3 separate regions of the Homo sapiens genome follow, and all the other regions are linked to region 1. Evidence: fine-mapped expression QTL. A gene starts in region 1. Each other region holds a variant in brackets. All regions are shown on one strand. Distances are from middle to middle.

Region 1 (4,239 bases):
CCCAGGCCTAGCACAAGCCCTGACACATAGCGGGGATTCTTGGCAGAAAGGACAGATAACTTGCTGATGACAGGTCAACTGCCAGGGCGATCTGTGCACCTGGGCCAGTGGGGCCAGGAGTTCCTCCTCAGAGTGGATGGGGCACAATATCTCCTGAGACAGGAGCAAGCCCAGGGCCACATCCCAGCCAGAGGCAAGAAGGTTCAGACCTGTGACTAAGAGGCAGATGGCCACTGCCTGTCACAGGGAGGAAGGCTGGTTGGAGGAATGGGGGGAGCTTTGCTTAGGACACTGTGAGTGGGGTGCACACTGGCACCCAGCCCCCTCCTCTTTCCCTCCTGTACTGAATGCTGCAAAGTCAGAATAAGAGGATGTAGACCAGGCAAAAGCCGCCCAGACCTCACCCAGTTCCACTTCTCTGCAGATCACATCCAAGTCAGGAGGGGAACAGGGGTGGCGTCCTGGGCCTGATGTCATGTCCTGTCCTCTATGTGAACCTTGAAAACCAAGGGACTTCCTGCCTCGGCAGAGCTGACCTCAGGACATCTAAACTGTCACCTTCTCCCGATCCCCGGGCCCAGCTCTGTGCAGTGCATGCCGCTGTGGCCAGAGTGTGTGGGTGGCTCATGCCAGTAATCAGCGCTTTGGGAGGTCAACGTGGGAGGATGGCTTGAGGCCAGGAGTTCGAGACCACCCTGGGTAAATAGTGACACCCTGTATCTTTTTTTTTTTTTTAAGTTTTTTTGCCTTTTTTTTTTTTTTGGAGACGTAGTCTCACTATGTCGCCCAAGTTGGAGTGCAGTGGCATCCTGATCTCAGCTCACTGCAACCTCTACTCCCGGGTTCAAGCAATTCTCCTGACTCAGCCTCCCAAGTAGCTGGGATTACAGGCATGAACCACCACACTTGGCTAATTTTTATATTTTTAGTAGAGATGAGGTTTCACCCTGTTATGTTGGCCAGCCTGGTCTCAAACTCCTGGCCTCAGGCGATTCGCCCGCCTCCACCTCCCAAAGTGCTGGGATTACAGGTGTGAGCCACCGAGCCCAGATAATTTTTTTTTTTTCAATTAGCCAGGCGTGTTGGCACCCCCTAAATTGCAAGGCTGGGGCGGGAGAATCGCTTGAGCTCAGAAGTTAGGCTGGCGCCACTCCGCCCCAGCCTGGGAAACAGGTGCAAACCCAGTCTCAAAAAAATTTTTAAAAATTAAAAATAAATATTGAAAGGAAGGATACTGCACAGACTCAGCCTTTACCTCGGGAAAGGGCTCGGCAAGAGCCTTTTCTCCTCCTGCCTAATCCGCCCCGGCCCTCCAGGGTGCTCCTGTTCCCCCGTCCCCCAAGCCGGCGCCCCCAAGCCCGTTGACCTTTAACCTCCTGCGGGCCCCAGCTCGGAGACGCCCAGGGGAAGAAGTCTGCGGGGGGCCCGGGCTCCCCTACTCCCACCGCCGGGCTTTCGGGCGCCTCCCGGCCCTGCCCCGAGATCGCACCTCCCACAGCGGCCGCCGGTACCACTGCTCCTCGAAGCCCCGGCGTCGGTTGTCAGAGAAGTCGGCGCGGAAGCTCCAGAGGCCGTCCAGCTCCTTGCACTCCCGCGACGGGCTCTCCTGGGGGTACAGCATCCCGCCCTGCAGCCCCAGCGCGCAGCCCCACAACAACGGCCCGAGCGCCGCCCAGGCAACCGCCGACCCCCGGGCCATGCTTCCCGGTCCCCCGCTCGGCCACCGTCTGCGGCGCTAAGAAAAGCGCGGGAGGTGCCCGTAGGGCGGGTCGCGTGACGCGCCGGTGTCGTGATGCGCCTGAAGCCATCCGCGCCATCTTGGTTGAGGACGAGTGCCAGGCCTGGAGGGGCGGGGCCGGGCGCTGCCCGGTAGGGCTTGTGGCTGGAACCCCAGGCTAGGCCTTTGGGGAAACGGGACCCTCACCCTCAGCCCCAGCCGATAAGGGCGAGGTCTGCTCCCCACCCCGACCCAGGCTGGACGATCCAGGGCCGCAGGCCAGAACAGAACCCCTGAGATCGGTGGGATCCCCCTGTTTCTTCAAGGAGCACCTCCACTTGCTTTTCCCAGCAGGAATTCAAGGAGGCCCCAGCGGCGCCTCTTCCATGCCTGTCTGATGCAGCCTCTTGCAGGGATGCACGTCCTTGGGATGCGGCCATAGCCTTGACCCTGGGCTTCTGGAGCCCTGACCTTAACCCAGGGGCCAAGAGCTCCCTCTTGGTGTTGCAGGCACATAAAGATGCAGGGAGAGAGGCCAGGTGCACTTTGGGAACCCGAGGGGGGCAGATCACTTGAGGCCAGGAGTTCGAGACCAGCCTGGCCAACGATAGTGAAACCCCGTCCCTATTTTGTAAACATACAAAAAAAAAAAAAAGAATTAGCGGGGCGTGATGGTGCGTGCCTGTAATCCCAGCTACTCAGGAAGCTGAGGTAGGAGAATCGCTTGAACCCGGGAGGCAAAGGCTGCAGTAAGCCGAGATCGCACCACTGCACTCCAGCCTGGGCAACAGAGCGAGACTCTGTCTCAAAAAAAAAAAAAAAATTGCAGGGAAAGGGTGCCCTGCGGGACCCCAGTTTACTCCAGTAGGGAAGGCACCGTGTGGGAGAGGTAGAGGAGGAGATCTGGAGACAGCAAAGGAGACATAGATTTATGGAGGGGACTTTCATACAGGGACGGTGCAGTGGCCATTGCTGGACATGAGAACCACTACCATTTGTAAAAAGCATGCAGCTTACATAACATTTTCAACTAGCATCCTCGACCTGTTACTGGTGGAGTTCCGGGTGGTGAATCCCTACACATCAGCAACAACCTCAATTCTTGCCTCCTCAGAAGAAAGAATTGCACTGAGGGGCATAAGGCAGAAAGCCAGAGGGAGGTAAGCTGCAGAGCAGTAGTAAAAGCTTGTTAAAAAGCAGGCCAGTGCTGAGCGTAGTGGCTCACACCTGTAATCCCAGCACTTTGGGAGGCGGAGGTGGGGGGATCACGAGGTCAGGGGTTTGAGACCAGCCTGGCCAATATGATGAAACCCCATCTCTACTAAAAAATTAGCTGGGCATGGTGGCATGCGCCCGTAGTCCCAGCTACTCGGGAGGCTGAGGCAGGAGAATCGATTGAACGCGGGAGGCAGAGGTTGCAGTCAGCCGAGATCGCACCACAGCACTACAGCCTGGCGAGAGAGCAAGACTCAGTCTAAAAAAAAAAGCAGGCCAGGCACAGAGGTTCAGGCCTGTAACTCCAAACTCCAGCACTTTGGGAGGCCAAGGCGGGAGGATCACTTGATATCAGGAGTTTGAGACCAACCTGGCCAACGTGGAGAAACCCCATCTCTACTAAAAATACAAAAATTAGCCAGGCGTGGTGGCAGGCACCTGTAATCCCTACTATTTGGGAGGCTGAGGCAGGAGAAATGCTTTAACCCAGGAGGCAGAGGTTGCAGTGAGCTGAGATCACGCCACCGCACTCCAGCCTGGGCTACAGAGTGAGATGCCATTTCAGGAAAAAAAAAAATATTAAAAAACTTTAGAACAGGAAGGAAAGAAGGAAAGTACAACTTGGAAGAGGGCCAAGTGGGTGATCTAAGAAACCAAGTGCCTTGGCCAGGTGCGGTGGCTCACGCCTGTCATCCCAGCACTTTGGGAGGCTGAAGCAGGCAGATCACCTGAGGTTGGGAGTTCGAGACCAGCCTGACCAATATGGAGAAACCGCATCTCCATATTTAGCTGGGCATGGTGGCACATGTCTGTAATCCCAGCTACTCGGGAAGGCTGAGGTGAGAGAATCGCCTGAACCAGAGATTGCAGTGAGCCGAGATCACGCCATTGTACTCCAGCCTGGGCAACAAGAGTGAAACTCCTACAAAAAAAAAGAAAAAGGAAAACAAGTGCCCAGCTTGACCTCTTGACTCAGGGTTTCATAGATTGGCATCCTTCCAGGATCTTGCCACTCCTGATTCCTTAGCTGGGGCTCTGAACATACATTCTTAGACCATAAAGTCATTCGCAGGGTGCACAACAGTTACGGATGTCAGGTGCCTCTGCCATACAGAGGGAGCCCTCATGTCCTAGGAAGCTGGCCTGGACACAATTGTTTGTATGATTACTCCCCCACCCCCTTTTTTCATGCTCACCAAATCCACCTTCTGAAAATGGACCTCAATACTGGAAATGGAGTCCCCAGCATAGTGAAAATAAGTACATTCTGGGAACTGACAAGGCCTAAAGGCTCTCTCCCAAATGTT
Region 2 (4,239 bases), 130 kb before region 1:
GACTTCAGGTGATTCGCCCCCCTCAGCCTACCAAGGTGCTGGGAATACAGATTATAGGCATGAGCCACTGCGCCCGGCCGCCACATTTCCTTTATTCTTTTTTCCATTGATGGAAAGAAACATAGGTTGATTCCATCTCTTCACTGTTAAGAATAGTTGTCTACAAATTTTTTTTTTTTTTTTTTTTTTTTTTTTTTGAGACGGAGTCTCGCTCTGTCGCCCAGGCTGGAGTGCAGTGGCGGGATCTCGGCTCACTGCAAGCTCCGCCTCCCGGGTTCACGCCATTCTCCTGCCTCAGCCTCCCAAGTAGCTAGGACTACAGGCGCCCGCCACTACGCCCGGCTATTTTTTGTAGTTTTAGTAGAGACGGGGTTTCACCGTTTTAGCCGGGATGGTCTCGATCTCCTGACCTTGTGATCCGCCCGCCTCGGCCTCCCAAAGTGCTGGGATTACAGGCGTGAGCCACCGCGCCCGGCCGTCTACAAATTTTTTTACACTTGTCATCAAGAGATAGAATCTGGTTTCAGGCTGGGTGTGGCGGCTTACGCCTGTAATCCCAGCACTTTGGGAGGCCGAGGTGGGTGGATCACGAAGTCAGGAGATTGAGACCATCCTCGCCAACATGGTGAAACCCCATCTCTACTAAACATACAAAAATTAGCTGGCCGTGGTGGCTTGTGCCTGTAGTCCCAGCTACTCAGGAGGCTGAGGCAGCAGAATCACTTGAACCTGAGTGGTGGAGGTTGCAGTGAGCTGAGATCGGGCCACTGCACTCCAGCCTGGGTGACAGAGCAAGACTCTGTCTCAAAAAAAATAAAAAATCTAGTTAATCTTCCCTTGAATATGAACTTAGTCCCCTGCTTCTATAAGTAGAATACAATGGAAGTGTTGCTCGTGATCTGCCAAAGTTAGGTCATAAAAGATGTTTCCACTTGGCTGTCCTTCCTGGGATGGGTGCACTTAGAACCCATTCACCATTTTGTGAGAAAGCCCAGGCCACATATGGAGGTGATGTGTGGGTGTTCCACCAGATAGCCCCAGCTGAGGCCCTAGCTAACAGCCCACATTAACCAGGAGATATTTGAGCAAGGAAACCATTGAGACTATTCTAACTGCATACTGTTTGAAGGCAACCACATAAGACATCCTAAGCCAGAACTGCCTAGGTGAGTCTAGTCAGCCTTCAGTATTGTGAGAAGACTAATAAGCATCATTGTAACTTTATACCATTACGCTTGGAGTGGTTTGTTACACAGCAATAGATAGCTGATACACAAAGTGGTCTTCCAATACGAATATTATGTCAGTTCTCCACTTGACAGCATTTAATGATTTAGAATTGAGTGTAAAAGTCAAAACCCAATTCTGAATCCATCTGACAAGGGATTAATAACTAGAGTACATAAAGAGCTCAGGTGGAAAAAAAATAAATGGGAAAAAATATAATAATCTGATTTTAAAATGGGCAAAAGATCAGAATAAATATTTCTCAAAAGAAGACATACAAATTGCAAACAGGTATATAAAAAGGTGCTCAACATCATCGATCATCAGAGAAATGCAAATCAAAACTATAATGAGCTATCATCCTACCCCAGTTAAAATGGCTTATATCCAAAAGACAGGCGATACCAAATGCTATTGAGGATGTGGAGAAAAGGGAACCCTGATACACTGTTGATGGGAACGTAAATTAGTACAACCACTATGGAGAACGGTTTGGAGGGTCCTCAAAAAATGAAAAATAGAGTTACTTTATGATGCAATAATCTTACTGCTGGATATATACCCAAAAGGAAGAAAATCAGTATATTGAAGAAATATCTGCATTTCTATATTTATTACAACACTATTCACAATAGCCAAGATTTGGAAGCAATTTAAGTGTCCATCAACAGGTGAATGGATAGAAAAAATGTGGTATATATACACAATGGAATATTATTCAGCCATGAGAAAGAATATAATCCTGTTATTTGCAACAACATGAGTAGAACTGGAGATCATTATGTTAACTAAAATAAGCCAGACACAGAAAGACAAATTTTGCATGTTCTCAGTCATTTGTGGGTGCTAAGAATTAAAATAATTGAACTTATGAAGATAGAGAACAGAATGATGGTTACCAGAGGCTGGGAAGGGTAGTGGGCTGGAGGGGGTGCACAGGAATGATTAATGGGTACAAAAATACAGTTAGAATGAATAAGATGTAGTATTTGGCAGTACAACAGCATGACTATAGTAAACAATAATTTATTGTATATTTAAAAATAGCTTAAATAGGCCAGGTGTGGTGGCTTATGCCTGTAATCCCAGCACTTTGGGAGGCCAAGGGGGGCTGATCACCTGAGGTCAGAAGTTCAAGACCAGCCTGGCCAACATGGAGAAACCCCACCTCTACTAAAAATACAAAAATTAGCGGGGCGTGGTGGTGCACGCCTGTAGTCCCAGCTACTCAGGAGGCTGAGGCAGGGGAATCACTTGAACTGAGGGGGCAGAGGTTGCAGTTAGCCAAGATTGTGCTACTGCACTCCAGCCCCGATGACAGAGCTGGACTTTGTCT[C/CAA]AAAAAAAAAAAAAAAAAAAGCATAATTGGAGATTGTAAAACAAAGAAAGGACAAATGCTTGAGGTGATGGGCATCCCATTCACCCTGATGTGATTATTACACATTACATGCTGTGTCAAAACGTCTCATGCACCCCATAAATATATACACCTACTGTGTATCCACAAAAATTAAAAGTAAAGCATTTTTTAAACCCCCAATCTTGGCCAGATGTGGTGTCCCACACCTGTAATTCCAGTGCTTTTATAGGCCAGGATGGGAGGATCACTTGAGTCCAGGAGTTTGAGACCCACCTAGGCAACATAGCAAGACTGTCATCTCTAATAACAATAAAAAAACTTAGCCAGGCATGGTGGGGCTCAGGCCTATAGTCCCAGCTACTTGGGAGGCTGAGGTGACAGGATCTCTTGAACCCAGGAGGTTGAGGCTGCAGTGAGCTATGATTGCCCCACTGCACTCCAGCCTGGGTGACAGAGTGAGACCATGTCTCTTAAAAACCAAACCAATCCTAGCATGATCGGACCCTGTCTGCCACCCTCTATTCCTTTCCTCTTGCTCAGTGTGCATCAGGCATCTGGGCTTCTTTTCTGCTCCTGTAAATGAATGCCAAGTGGTTTCCCTCTTCAGGACCTTTGCACATGCTCTCCCCTGCCCGAAATGGACTTCCCATACCTCCTGCCATAGCTGGATTTTTCTCATGTTTCAGACCTCAGCTCGCACATCATCTCTCGAGAAATCCTCCCTCATCCTGTGAAGAGAAAATCATCGTCCTTTTCATTGCCTCGTCCTGCCTGGTTCTCTCAAAGCAGATACCACACTAAAAAATCAGCTTGTTATTTATTGAACTGCTTGTCTGCATATCCTCCTCCCAAACTCACGGCAAATCAGAACAGAGGCTCCTTGTGGCAGGAGTCCCATCTTGTTCATTCTCAGAACCTAATATAGTACTTGGCACATAGTAGGCACACAACAAATGTCATTAGAATGAGTAAGTATCAAGGGGTCAGGCGCGGTGGCTCATGCCTGTAATCCCAGCACTTTGGGAGGCCAAGGCAGGTGAATCACCTCAGGTCAGAAGTTCGAGACCAGCCTGGCCAACATGGTGAAACCTTGTCTCTGCTAAAAATACAAAAGTTAGCTGGGCATGGTGGTGCACACCTGTAATCCCAGCTACTTGGGAGGCTGAGGCAGGAGAACCACTTGAATTTGGGAGGCAGAGGTTGCAGTGGGCCAAGATTGTGCCACTACACCCCAGCCTGGGTGACAGAGTGAGATTCCATCTCAAAAAAAAAAAATGAATGAATAAGTATCAAGGAAGGGAGATTTTGTGATTTGCCACCTTTACATGGAAAGCCTACTTAACATTGACATTTTCTATTTGATGGTATTTTTATAATAGGAAATTGAAACTGAGCTAATTAAAAAAGAATAAGGCTGGGCATGGTGATTTATGCCTGTAATTCCAGCACTTTGGGAGGCTGAAGAGGGAGGATCACTTGAGGGTAGCAGTTTCAGACCAGCGTGGGCAACATACAGAGACCCCTGTCTCTGTAAAAACAACTTTTTTTTTTTGAGACAGAATTTCGCTCTTGTTGCCCAGGCTGGAGTGCAGTGGCACGATCTCGGTTCACCAGCCTCTGCCTCCTGGGTTCAAGCAATTCTCCTGCCTCAGCCT
Region 3 (4,239 bases), 260 kb before region 1:
GTCAGCTGGCAGATAAAATTTATGGATGGGAAAAAGCGATTACTAGGAAATATTCTTTCCCAAGTTACATAGATGTAATAGAGACACATGAGAAATGTAGTAGAGACACTAATCAATTCAGACAGTGCAGTTAAGCCCCACAAAGAGTACTACTCCTTCATTCATCCATCTGTCCACTCATTCATCCTTCCTTCCATCCATTTGTGCAATTGTGTTTACTCTATTGCATGCACTAAGTGCTGTGGTTGCCAAGGTAAATATATCACAGTTCTTCCTCTCGGGGTGTACACAGTTTCATTCAGAGACATACAAATGGGCAGGCAATTATAAAACAGGGTTTGGTGAGTAGACATGCACAGGATGGGTCATCTCCTAGACTGTCTCCTAAAAAACCCTTTCAAAGCACCTCTACCACATGCAGGGCTAAACCTTTTAGAGTATTCAATTTGGAGTGTGGTGGAGGCTCAGGAAAGGAAAGGAGAAGGGCACAAGGGATATGAGAGAAGGGCCAAAGGGATATGAGTCAAAGCAGGGATGCAAGCACTGGCAGGAAGTACAATAAGGGGACAGAAAAATAGGCTGGAACAGGCAGAGAAGGCTTCCTGGAGGAGGTAAGGATGAATCAGGCCTTGAAGATTACGCTTTTCGGCTATGGTGACAATAAAGGAACGGGCCTTCTGGCTTCCAAGCAGAAATTATTATAAATTATGAGACCTGCAGAGAACTAGTTCTGAGCTAGCTGTGAAGTTGTATTGCATATTGGAGTGTTTTTGTTTTGTTTTGTTTTTTTCCACATTAGTGGTTGTCCACCTTCACTGCACTTTAGGATTACTCAGAAAGCATTAAGAACAGATGAATAGGTGTCAGCCTACATTAATTAAATCAAAATCCTGAGAATAGGGCCTATGGGCACTAGTGTTTAAGAGTTCATAGGTGATTCTAATACGTAGTCAGTGATACCAGCAGAACTACTGTTTTACATTGTCCCTGAAAAAAAACTTCACTGATCACCTGAGTGTAAAGGAGATTGTAGGCAGGTTACTTAAGGGTCATCTCCTAGACTGTCTCCTAAACCCCCTTCAAAGCACATCTACCACACGCAAGGCTAAACCTTTTAGGTACCTTATAGGTAGAGGGACGGGAAACTCACTGCCCCATCGTGGGACAGGTCCAGTGCTTTGAAAGTGCCATCCAGTCCAGTCACCACACCCTGAGTCATTCCTCTGTTCCAGGCACTACTTACTTCAGGTGCTCGATAGAGATATAGCAGTAAACATGCCTCAGAGATGACACTGAGATTACATTCCCCAATAAAATACTGTAGATCTGTTCTTTAAAGCAAAGCCTGCAGAACTCCATTCATTAACTATTTATTTTATTTTATTTTATTATTATTATACTTTAAGTTTTAGGGTACATGTGTACAATGTGCAGGTTTGTTACATATGTATACATGTGCCATGTTGGTGTGCTGCACCCATTAACTTGTCACTTAGCATTGGGTATATCTCCAAATGCTATCCCTCCCCCCTCCCCCCACCCCACAACAGTCCCCGGGGTGTGATGTTCCCCTTCCTGTGTCCATGTGTTCTCATTGTTCAATTCCCACCTATGAGTGAGAACATGCGGTGTTTGGTTTTTTGTCCTTGTGATAGTTTGCTGAGAATGATGGTTTCCAGTTTCATCATGTTTTATGGCTGCATAGTATTCCATGGTGTATAAGTGCCACATTTTCTTAATCCAGTCTATCGTTGTTGGGCATTTGGGTTGGTTCCAAGTCTTTGCTATTGTGAATGGTGCCGCAATAAACATACGTGTGCATGTGTCTTTATAGCAGCATGATTTATAGTCCTTTGGGTATATACCCAGTAATGGGATGGCTGGGTCAAATGGTATTTCTAGTTCTAGATCCCTGAGGAATCGCCACACTGACTTCCACAATGGTTGAACTAGTTTA[G/C]AGTCCCAACAACAGTGTAAAAGTGTTCCTATTTCTCCACATCCTCTCTAGCACCTGTTGTTTCCTGACTTTTTAATGATCGCCATTCTAACTGGTGTGAGATGGTATCTCATTGTGGTTTTGATTTGCATTTCTCTGATGGCCAGTGATGATGAGCATTTTTTCATGTGTTTTTTGGCTGCATAAATGTCTTCTTTTGAGAAGTGTCTGTTCATATCCTCCGCCCACTTTTTGATGGGGTTGTTTGTTTTTTTCTTGTAAATTTATTTGAGTTCATTGTAGATTCTGGATATTTGCCCTTTGTTGGATGAGTAGGTTGCGAAAATTTTCTCCCATTTTGTAGGTTGCCTGTTCAGTCTGATGGTAGTTTCTTTTGCTGTGCAGAAGCTCTTTAGTTTAGTTAGATCCCGTTTGTCAATTTTGGCTTTTGTTGCCATTGCTTTTGGTGTTTTAGACATGAAGTCCTTGCCCATGCCTATGTCCTGAATGGTATTGCCTAGGTTTTCTTCTAGGGTTTTTATGGTTTTAGTTCTAACATGTAAGTCTTTAATCCATCTTGAATTAATTTTTGTCTAAGGTGTAAGGAAGGGATCCAGTTTCAGCTTTCTACATATGACTAGCCAGTTTTCCCAGCACCATTTATTAAATAGGGAATCCTTTCCCCACTGCTTGTTTTTGTCAGGTTTGTCAAAGATCAGATGGTTGTAGATATGTGGTGTTATTTCTGAGGACTCTGTTCTGTTCCATTGATCTATATCTCTGTTTTGGTACCAGTACCATGCTGTTTTGGTTATTGTAGCCTTGTAGTATAGTTTGAAGTCAGGTAGCATGATGCCTCTGGCTTTGTTCTTTTGGCTTAGGATTGACTTGGCGATGCGGGCTCTTTTTTGTTCCATATGAACTTTAAAGTAGTTTTTTCCAATTCTGTGAAGAAAGTCATTGGTAGCTTGATGGGGATGGCATTGAATCTATAAATTACCTTGGGCAGTATGGCCATTTTCACGATATTGATTCTTCCAACCCATGAGCGTGGAATGTTGTTCCATTTGTTTGTATTCTCTTTTATTTCATTGAACAGTGGTTTGCAGTTCTCCTTAACATCTGTTAAGGAGATTAATTAACATCTGTTAATGAGACCTTTCCTCGATTAAATATTCTGTCATTGGAGATTGGTACATTTCTTTGTCAAGGGCAACAGTTTTTAAGCCATTCACATACACACGTTCCTGGGAGAAGTGACACTGGGGAGATTTTTTTTTTAACCCCTGAAAATAAACATATCGGAGAATACATTCATGATCTCTCCACAGGTTCTAATAAAGGGGGGAGACCTGGGTTCTGCACCTGGCCTTGTTGTCGTGGTTACGGTTGCTTTCAGGCGATGGCACCTGTTCTCCAGGTGTGTCTGGACTTCTACTTGCTTTAGCCATATATGGCCACCAGGGGGAGCAGTCACCCCACAGTTGCCTGGAGCGCCCTCTCTCTCCAAATTCACAGCTTGAAATGTCACCTGTGGCCGTCTGCGGTCATCCACGGTTTTCTTTCTTACCTTTTCTTTCTTTCTTTCCTTCCTTCCTTCCTCCTTCCCTTTTTCCTTCGTTCCTTCCTTCCTTTTTTTTTCTTTCTTTCTCTTTTCTTTCTTTCTTTCCCCCTCTCTCTCTCCCTTCCTTCTTTGTCTTTCTTTCGATCCTTCCTTCCTTCTCCCCTCCCCTCCCCTCCTCTCCCCTTCCCGACAGAGTTTCGCTCTTGTTGCCCAGGCTGGAGTGCAGTGATGTGATCTCAGCTCGCTGCAACCTCTGCCTCCTGGGTTCAAGCAATTCTCCTGCCTCAGCCTCCCAAGCAGCTGGGATTACAGGTGCCCACCATCAAGCCTGGCTAATTTTGTATTTTTAGTAGAGACGGGGCTTCCCCATGTTGGCCAGGCTGGTCTTGAACCCCTGACCTCCGGTGATCCATCCTCCTCAGCCTTTCAAAGTGCTGGGATTACAGGTGTGAGCCACCACAGCTGGCCATCCATGGCTATTTTCACCATGCCTCGCTTTCCCCTGTTGGTTCAGTCACCCTCAAAGGACAGAGCCTCTGTGCTATAGGCCTCCCCCCAGATCTGTGCATTGCCTAATATGACTGGACCCTCCTCCCCACTCCCCATCCTGCCCCAGCTCCTCTGATGACATCATCGGCTCTGGAGCCACCACTCAGCCTCTTGCAGGAGGGTCCCCTCTCTCCAACCCCACTGGCCCCTCAGGACCCCACATCCCCCGGCACCGTCTGGTGCAGGGACT

Alleles and levels. Positions count from the first base shown, and alleles are read on the strand shown. Sizes are in standard deviations (SD) of each study's normalised expression.
As copies of CAA replace C in region 2, the expression in monocytes after LPS of the gene that starts at base 1,729 in region 1 goes down (small effect, 0.33 SD a copy in Fairfax 2014).
With allele C in place of G in region 3, the expression in thyroid of the gene that starts at base 1,729 in region 1 is lower (small effect, 0.29 SD a copy in GTEx).

Evidence for each region. PIP is the estimated chance that this variant, and not a neighbour inherited with it, causes the effect.
Region 2: its variant is the best candidate, but not a certain one, in a credible set for the expression of GUSB in monocytes after LPS (Fairfax 2014, PIP 0.59).
Region 3: its variant is the best candidate, but not a certain one, in a credible set for the expression of GUSB in thyroid (GTEx, PIP 0.53).

Annotation. Positions count from the first base shown.
Region 1 is chr7:65,980,485-65,984,723 of GRCh38, forward strand. It overlaps GUSB (glucuronidase beta), which reads right to left and starts at 1,729. Exons shown (of 12, transcript NM_000181.4): 1 at 1,490-1,729. The coding sequence starts at 1,699. RefSeq lists enhancers at 1-318, 1,775-1,904.
Region 2 is chr7:65,847,147-65,851,385 of GRCh38, forward strand. No RefSeq gene overlaps it. Among named protein-coding and RNA genes, the nearest start is that of LINC03129, 9.6 kb to the left of the region's middle. The variant C/CAA (reference allele first, on the strand shown) is at 2,564.
Region 3 is chr7:65,719,067-65,723,305 of GRCh38, forward strand. The region is part of intron 3 of LINC03006 (long intergenic non-protein coding RNA 3006); the gene reads right to left. Among named protein-coding and RNA genes, the nearest start is that of SNORA22, 34 kb to the right of the region's middle. The variant G/C (reference allele first, on the strand shown) is at 1,958.